Homo sapiens: one gene and its partner. The protein of the gene in region 2 purifies or fractionates together with the protein of the main gene of each other region. This does not show direct contact. Each region holds a gene or a part of one and is shown on either strand. Other genes may lie near its edges.

Evidence for each region. The genes of interacting proteins can lie anywhere in the genome.
Region 1: the proteins of BBX (region 2) and SINHCAF purify together in Homo sapiens (co-immunoprecipitation; one large-scale study listed by IntAct). This does not show direct contact.

What each region holds. Positions count from the first base shown.
Region 1 is NC_000012.12:31,287,300-31,292,190, forward strand, and holds part of SINHCAF (SIN3-HDAC complex-associated factor), read right to left. Parts: intron 486-4,891; coding exon 335-485; intron 1-334. UniProt on the Homo sapiens protein: Subunit of the Sin3 deacetylase complex (Sin3/HDAC), this subunit is important for the repression of genes encoding components of the TGF-beta signaling pathway.
Region 2 is NC_000003.12:107,770,455-107,775,345, reverse strand, and holds part of BBX (HMG box transcription factor BBX), read right to left. Parts: intron 2,719-4,891; coding exon 1,710-2,718; intron 628-1,709; coding exon 489-627; intron 1-488. UniProt on the Homo sapiens protein: Transcription factor that is necessary for cell cycle progression from G1 to S phase.

The sequences.
Region 1 (4,891 bases), on a different chromosome or scaffold from region 2:
TTCCTGATCCACTTTATCTCTAGTATATTTTTGGTCACGTCTTTTTGAAGGACCAACTCTTAGTTTTACTGATTCTCTCCACTGCATATTGTCTTTCTACTCCACTTATCTAGCAATAGGCAATGTAGGTACCTTGATGTGATTTTTATTTTAAATAAATTTTAATAGGAAGAACATACAAAAATCCCACTTCCCTGCTCAATTCCTGCTTAATCCACTGCAATCGTGTGTTACCAACTGTTTGCCAAATGCCATTTAATTGCTAAGGAAGTAGAAAAATACTGCCCATAATTAAGATGGTTTGCTGGTTAGAGAGATACTTTGTTTCTTTTACCTTTTCCAGTAAGTGAGATCTAAAAAGGAAAAAACTGGTGTTCTGTTAGAACCAGAAGCCATCTCTGTATCTGAGCCGTCATCTGACTGGTTACTGTAACAAGGAGATTGAGCTGGGGAGGCACTTGAGGTGGTACTGTGAGCATCAGAATCTGCAATAAAGATTAAGAGAAAAAATAAAATTTTCAATTTCATTACATGTAATTGCAACTAAACCTCAGCATAAGACACTGTGAAAGAGTTGGTAAAAAAGAAAAAGTAAAAAATAATTCATTTTCTATGCACTACTGATATTTGAAGATATTCAGACTAACGTGTTTTTTAAAGAAGTGAAGAAGATGGAATAGACATACTTCCTATTCCTCCTGCTTATACAACTAAAATCCCTGGATATTATATATAAAACAAACCTGAGACTCCAAAAGGTGATGATCATCTAGGGAGCTCAAGACCCAAGGCAAGCCATGGTGGTAGGTTCCTTAGTTTTTCTGGATTTTCCTTTTGCCTCATAATCCCCAGCTTTGGAAGTGAAACAGCAGCCACCCAGAAATGCCAATGTGTACAGACAATCAAAACAACAACAACAAAACAAAAATCCAAAACCCCAATTAAAACCTGATCTCTCTAGCAAAGAACTAGGAAAAGGGCAGCCTAGCCAGACAGAAAACATTTCTGAACACTAACCTTCCTGTTCCAGCCAAACCCACGGAAAAAACTGTGGACACCTTTCCTAACCCCAGCAGAGGCTGAGGTGAAGAGCCTACATTTCCACCCTCACAAGACTTAGGAAGCACCCCAACACCTATACCAGGGTGGTGTCAGAGGAAGCCTAGCGAAGTCAGGATTTTCATTATGGCCCACTAAGTACAAGGCCACCCTCACCAGGTGGTAGCCTGAACTCTCTCCTGACATCCAGTAGTAACAAGGAGCCTCCCCCTCCCCCCAACCTCAGATGTCAATGGAGGTTGAGAGAGAAACTGGAATTCTAACACCTGGCGGTAAGTAATAGGGTGGTGAGGCCCCTCCCTCTTTCCCTGCCCTGAGGGGTGTCAAAAAAGCCAGTTAAAATAGAAGGGTTAAATAAGACCCAGAGTCTCACAACATAATCTGAAAATGTCCAGGTTTCAATAAAAAATTACATCAGTCCAAGAATCAGGAAGATCTCAAACTAAATGAAAAGGCCAACACTAAGATGACAAAGACATTAGAATTATCTGACCAAGATTTTAAAGCAGCCACGACAAAAATGCTTCAGTGAGCAATTATGAACATGTTTGAAATAAATGAAAACATAGGCTTGGCAAAGAAATAGGAAGCCTCAGTAAAAATAAGATAGAAAACTATAAGGAAAAAATAAATGGAAAATTTGTAACTGAAAAAAATACAATAAAGAAAATAAAAACCACAGTGGATGGGCTGAGCAACATGGAGGGGAGAGAGAAAACAAACAGTGAACTGGAAGAAAGAACAACAGAAATTGCCCCATATGAACGACACAGAAAACAAATGAACAGAGCAGGAGAAACCTGTGGAGCTTAGTCAAACATACATCTACATTCATGTCATTGCAGTCCTGGAGGGAGAGGAAAAAGAGAATAGAGGTGAAAAAGTACTCAAATATAGTGGCTGAAAACTTGTGAAATTTGGCGAGACATAAACCTAAGACTCAAGAAGCTAACCAAAGCCCAACAGAATAAACCCAAAGAAATCCATGCCAAAACACGTCATAATTAAGCCTCTATAAACTAAACCAAGAGAAAAATCTTGAAAGCAGCCAAAGAATAATGACATTATACCTATAAAGAGAAAACAAAAGATCCTGATTTAATAAGGAATAAAGGCAGTTCATTAGATGCAGAGCTAACCCTGATTTAATACTTTGCCTGTTTATGTGAAGATGTCAGATAAATGTACAAGCCAGAAAATAAGTTTCTTAGTTAACAGTCATTGTGCTATAAGGCTGTTGTACTGCCACGTCACAGCAAGAGCAGTATCATAAACCTCATAAACACAGGTGGGGCCTACCATACACCTTGCCCATCCCAGGACACGTTGACAGAGCAATCCTTCCATTCAGATAACCAATCAAGTACTTATTAAATATTTATAAGGCATCAAATCCTATGTTACATGCTGCATGGAAAGAAACAGACTAAAGAAAATTTGGGTTTTTTTTTTTTTTTAATTATTTTTATCTTTTGGTTTTCCTTGAGACCGGATCTCACTCTGTCACCCAGGCTGAAGTGCAGTGGCATGACCACAGCTCACTGCAGTCTCAACCTCCTGAGCTCAAGCAATCCTCCCGTCTCAGTCTCCTGAGTAGCTGGGACCACAGGCACACACCACCACACTCGGCTGGTTATTTTTTTAATTTTTAGCAGAGACAAGGTCTCGTTATTTGCCCAGACTGGTCTGGAGCTCCTAGCCTCAAGCGATCCTCCCACCTCGGCCTCCCAAAGTGCTGCAATTACAGGCATGGTCACACCTAGCCAAGAAAATGTTTTTGTTTTTGTTTGTTTGTTTGTTTGTTTGTTTAAAACAGAGTCTCACTCTGTCGCCCAGGCTGGAGTGCAGTGGCTGGATCTCAGCTCACTGCAGCCTCCAACCTCTTGGATTTTCATGCCTCAGCCTCTCGAGTAGCTACAACTACAGGTGTGCACTACCACACCCAACTAATTTTTTTATATTTTTAGTAGACAGGATTTCGCCATGTTTGCCAGGCTGGTCTTGAACTCCTGGCCTCCCAAAGTGCTGGGATTACAGGTGTGAGCCACCACACCCAGTCAAGAAAACGTTTTCTGAATAGAGCTCACAAATATTTTATATTTACAAATATTTACATAAAACAGCATAAAATTAGGTATCTAAAAGAAAGCCCCGTTAGTATTTTTAATATGTTAACTTAGCAAACAAAATCCTCAAGAGTAGCAGGTTTTAAAAAAATGAGTCTAGTGGGATGTTTAAGACTTCCTAAATAATTAACATCAACAGACACCTCTATGCTGCTGAGGAAAACTCACTCTCCTAGGAAGTGCTTAATATCTTTAAACTATTTGAAATTTCAATTATCTGACCATTTTTGTTTTGTTTTGTTTTTGTTTTCGGAGACGGAGTTTTGCTCTTGTTGCCCAGGCTGGAGTGCAATAGCACAATCTCGGCTCACCACAACCTCTGCCTCCCAGGTTCAAGCAATTTTCTTGCCTCTGCCTCCCAAGTAGCTGGGATTACAGGCATGCACCACCACGCCCAGCTAATATTGTATTTTTAGTAGACACGGGGTTTCTCCATGTTGGTCAGGCTGGTCTCAAACTCCCAACCTCAGGTGATCCACCTGCCTCGGCCTCCCAAAGTGCTGGGATTAGAGGTGTAAGCCTCCATGCCCAGCCCAAACTGCAATTTTAAGTCTTAAAAATTACGTAGGATTTAGAAGGCACCAAGGAGTGATTAGATGGCATCAAGTCGGTAGGGACAATGGGCAAAGTCAATGAGCAAAGCTGTGGAAGCCAAAAACACTCCAGGAACTGACTCAGCTCAAACAAAAATAGGACCTTCAAACACTTTCTAGGAATTCTCAACCATATTTTATAGTAAGCAGAAATCACTGCAGATTTTGAAAAGGATGACACAAAAAGAATAGCTAACATTTATAGACGAATTTATTTTGTTTTACAAAGCCATTTTTTACTTGATTATCCCCAGTTCTCTGATTAGAAAATTATGGTTAAACGTCAAGTGACTCCAGAGTTACACATTTGCTAGTGACAAGAGCTGATATTCAAATCCAGATCTGTAACTCTAGGTCCAATGCCTTTTCAGTACACCACAAAATGTCTTGAAAAGGGAATACAGGGCTGGGCACGGTGGCTCACGCCTGAAATCCCAGGACTTTGGGAGGCCAAGGAGGGCAGATCACCTGAGGTCAGGAGTTCAAGACCAGCCTGGCCAACATGGCGAAACTCTGTCTCTACTAAAAATACAAAAATTAGCTGGGTGTGGTGGCATGCACCTGTAATCCCAGCTACTCGGGAGGCTGAGGCAGGAGAATCGCTTGAACCCAGTAGGGGGAGGTTGCAGTGAGCTGAGATCCGTGCCACTGCACTGCACTCCAGCCTGGTTGACAGAGCAAGTTTGACTCCATCTCAGAAAAAAAAAAAAAGAAAGAAAGAAGAGAATACAGGCCTGGTATGTGCAGGATACACAGAAGCAAACACATAACCAGAAGCACAGACCATTTAGTGGGTGATATATAAAAATTCACATGTTTCCCAACTGCTTCAATGCACAAAGGTGCCAGCAATTTATACTGTACCTGGTGAACACCCTGTTTCAGTCTGAGCCTCCACAATCTACACACCTTATTATCAAAGGAATTTATTTTCAGTCTCTAACTACTACACAGCACAGTTTCATAATAAAAATCTAAAATTACACTGAATATTCCCTTAAGTAAGACAAAAGTGAGATATCACTTTCTCTATAATTAAGGGAAAGGGCTAAGAATATACATATGAATAATCAGTTCCTCGGCCTTCAAGTGATAAAAGAAAATTAATGTTTC
Region 2 (4,891 bases):
GCAGAATATTTGACCTGATATTTTTATCTTAGAGCAACAGAAGACAGCTGGAACAAAATAAAGTTGGCGATAGAAGCATAATTTCATTTACCTTACATTTTTCAGCTGTCATTTTATAAACAATAAATACATATAGTATGTAAAATGGGCAAAATGTAAACATGCTAATACTATCCATTCTAAGCTTCGGATGGAAAAATGCATCCTGGTGAAGGGATGTTGATTCAAACTCAGGTCCAAGTCTAAAGTCTATATATTTTCACTATGATCAAAATGTGAATGTTACTGTCATTCACATGACCATGTTAACAGCAGGAATGATGTGATGCACTTGATTTGTGTTCACTAGGGTGCCTACTAAGATTGTAGGAAGTCCTGAGCGAGTAGTCAAAGAACAAGCATGCGTAGTTAGTGATCTGTTTACCTTGAAAATCCCACCCACACTTGAGGCTTGTGGAGTACAGGTGACTGTGCTCACAGGCACTTACCCAAGGAGACAGTCTTCTTTTGGCTTTGTCTTCTTGAACTTCTTGCTCCCACTGGTCCCACTCTGACTAAATGTCCAGCTTTCTTCATTCCAACACCCTTCATGATCAGAGGAGTTTCCTTTTCCTGAGCTTCGTTTTCCTAAGAAAATTCAAGAGAAAGGATGTGTTTGGTATACAGGTGGGCGAGGGGAGATGATGTTAGTTGCTTCACGAGCAACCTCTTGACTGCTTGCATATCATTTGCATGAAGCTAACTGTAGCTATTTCAGAGTTCTCAGAGTGATTCATGCTGGACCATCTTTAATAATGGAACATGCAGAAAAGTGACTTAGAGCTTCTGGGATTAATTGTCATGTAATTCAACAGGTATCACATGACTCAAAGAGACAGACTAACTGCTGCTAGCTTTTCCATTCAAAAACCAGCCAAGGTATGGGAGTCCTTTGCTGGTGGGCACTATTCAGTCTAATTTCCCTAAAACTCACTGAACTGACATCCCTGGGGATGAAATAGGCCCAAGTATCTTCATTTGGGGCTTGTTAGACCTAGGACTCACACATGTCTTGTTGGAATATAGCTTGGCAAAAGGTAGTCCTCCAGGCAGATGCTATATTTTAAAATAGAGAATTTATATAAAACACTCAATGGAATAAAGGTAAACAGGTTAACTATTTTCTGGACATTATAATGTTTTAAAGAGCTCTTCGGTTCAAATGATGCACCCGCCTTGGCCTCCCAAAGCGCTGGGACTACAGGTGTAAGCCACTGTGCCTGGCCCACTTCAGTTACAGCTTTGATTACCTAATGAAGAGAGAAAGGCAGTTGCTTCTAGAGCCTACAGGTGAAGATTCTGACAAACATACGTGCTTGATTCTCGAAATTCCACCAGTTTTCAAAACCAAACCTAAAGCTCTGAATATTTAATAATAATCTTTCAAAACAAACAGCCAGCCCATACCAGTGGGGGGAAAGAAGAGATTAAAATTACTTTAATTACATCCTGAGAACTACCTACAAAATGAATACACTTCCCTTAATGGTGCTAGAAAACATGTAAGTAAAGTAACAAATAATTATGATCTATAAACCATAAAGAAATATACAAATGTAAGGTATTATTTTGATACCATATTGTTTTTTATGGCAGTTGTTTTCAATAGGTCTAAAGGTGAAATTCTGTTTGGTTTTTGAATTCTTTTCAGGTTTGTAGAAGTTACTTACCTCTGTCAACATTAGCTCGCAGAGAGGTGAGCATGCCCTCAGACACCAGGGTTTTATAAAGAGCACCTTTGCAAGACCTCTCGGATTTCCTGGAACCACAAGTTTCTATTTTTCTGTGACAGTCACTGTCCTCAGGCTTGGCCTGTCCTGATAGGCTGGGTGGTAGTGCATCTTCCATAGGGGTCAATGGTTCTGCTTTTATACCCTCTGGTGTCTCACCAGAAATGTTCTTGCTAGCAGAAATACTAATGAAATCTGGAGGTCTTGACTCTTTGGTGGTGTCTGAGGATTTCTCCTTTGACATTTTCTTCTCTCTTGATTTCACTTTTTTCTTTGGTGGCTTGGCATCCAAAATGCTTCCCTTGCCACTTGAGGATGTGCGGACCTTCTTGCGAGGGGTATCTCCAAGTTTCTCTATGCCCCAGTCTCCTTTTGCGACGGCTTCAATGGTATATATGACGCTCTCAATGTCAGATTCCGAAGACTGCCTCTTTTTGCAAGTCTTCTTGGGTGTGGATTTATCATTTCCATGTCGATCCATTTTGCTTTTCTTCTTTTTCTTTTTTAGCTTTTCTGGCTTGTTTAATGCTGCGGGATCCTCAATGATCATAATTCCATGAGGATGGCACATATGATCCTTTCTACTGGGAACATCACTAATTATTATCTTGCTACTGGCAGAATAAGAAAAATCAGGAAAATGACTACATTTGTGATCTTCTTCTAACTCTTCCTTTCTAATTTCTTTGGGATCTTCCATTTTTATAGCCATTATGTCATCTATTTGCAATGCCTCAAAATTTCTCAATTCCTTAGAATCTCTTAAATTTTCCTTAGCCGATTTTTCAAATTCTGCTTCCTTCTGTAACCTAGTTTCATCTGTTTTCTCCATTTTAATTTCTTTTTCTTCCTTTCCCTTCTCTAATTCTTTAATTCTTCCACCATCGGATTCTTTTGCTTTTATTAGCTTTGATTCTTCCATTTTCATCCCTTCTGATGCCAGGCACATCTAAACAATTAAAACAAAATGGGAGAGCACCCGAAAGTATCCTTATTATTCCACCTTCAAAATTAAAGTTTTCAATTATATCTGTTTTAAAAATAATCAAAACACACTTTAAACTTTACAACAATCAGCCCACTTCTGCCAAACTAACTGAAATGAATCAAATTGATAGAAGGCTGTGGGCACTGTTATACAGTCATTTAACTCGTCAAACGTATCTCTGAATTGTCATTTTCTAGCTTCAACAGAAGCTTTTCCTATGAAAACAAGACCTGGAAGAAGGAGGAAGGGATTCAGAGTTGAAAGACCCAAGTCTGATTCTTAGTTTTGCTACTTATTAACTTTGTGACCCAGAATGAATCACTTACCCCCTCACTCCTCTGTGGCTTCTGTAAAAGGAAAACGATCCTAGGACCTATCTCAGAGGATTCTGTGTGGTCTAAGTGAAACGATGTACTTAACTGTAGCACAGGCTGAATATCCCTTATCCGAAATGCTTGAAAACGAAAGTGTTTCAAATTTTGGATTTTTTTTTTTATTTTGGAATGTTTGCGTTATATACTTACTGGTTGAGAATTCTTAAACCAAAAATCAGAAATCCGAAATGCTCCAATGAGCATTTCCTTTGAGCTTCTTGTTGGTACACAAAAAGTTTTGGATTTGGCAGTATTTTGGAGTTTGGATTTTCAGATTAGGAATGCTCAACCTGTATTTAATCATCCTCAAACTCTGTTCAGATATCTGCCTTTTCTTTTTTTCCAGGGGAAATGAGGAAAGCAGAAATAATTTCTACCTGTCCACTTGAAATTAGAAATGATATAACCATTTGCTAAACAATTACAGAAGGTTTTGATTAATGAACAAAACATTATAGGTCCACAAATGCTGATAGACAACTCTAAAGTCATAAATGCTCTGAGAACAAACTTGTTTTTGTTTTCTTAACTCACTTGCTGGCAAATTGATCTGATGTGAACTCAGCTGGCTGCAAATTCTGACCTGAACCAACCTGAAACTTTATAGTCTTAAATAGTTTATTTCACTTACTGTGACCATTCATACTTTTTGTTATTGGAATAGTGGTGCATTCAAATATGCACTGGGGAAGTTACTTAGTGTAATATGTATCTACTGTATAATTTTCCTAAAATCTGAAAGATTCTGAACACCAAAACCCATCTGGCCCCAATTTGGTTAAGTTTTTATATTTCTCATCAAAACTCCCCAAATTTCACGTACAGAACATTCAAGGGGAAAGTTGCCATTTTCCTCTCTGGCTCCCAGATACCTTGAAACTTTAATATAGAGCTATTTTTTAAAATGGGAAATTTAAGCTTATTGTAAAACCTGTTTTCAGTGCCTGGGTTTTCATTTATACACACTTAACTGCAAGGCTCCCAAAATGCCAGCCCCCATGGAGGACACTAATGATACAAAAATCAATAAGGTCAGGTCTGTCTGCCTTTGAGGAACTTATAAAGAGATTGATGATGCCGATTTGGTCAAGGGCAGCAAGGAAGTCTTAGTCATAATTTATTTTATCTACTTTGTATTAGCAACTTAGAAGGGAAAGAGTATTGGGGGTTGCTGAGTCAATGCAAAATCAAGCACATGAGTAGGAAACTGATCTGTTTTTAAAAACCATCATTTTATTAAATGGCAAGTTGTCAGAGATCATTACCATCTGTAAAATTCATTTTTAGGTGGATAATACATTGAATTAAATACCAGATGCTTTTTTACCTCATTTTTCTCTTAGTATTTTCAATGCATCACCAATCTTCCTGTGAGAATTATGTTATGATTAGTAAGTCTGGGAAGAAATTAAAGAAAGGGTGGAGAGAGGCAGACACTGCAATTAAAAAAAGTGAACATGACAAGAGCACACAGCCCTTCGGATCATTCACAGGGAAGACATGAAATATTAAGGATTCACAACAGAGCTGTCTTTTTCAGGAATTCAGGTAAGCTAACCTTTAGACCTCAGCAAGTGGCTATGAAGACTATGAACTTCTCTTTATTAAACATAACCAGAAATAAGCTCAAAGCAAAATGTTATCTTAATTCTGAATCACTGAAACCTTTAATATTCCCTGCATGTTTTACTCTTATGGGAGAATGTACTATTTTTATATCAATTTTGAAATAATTTTTATTTTCCTTTCTCAACTTCTAT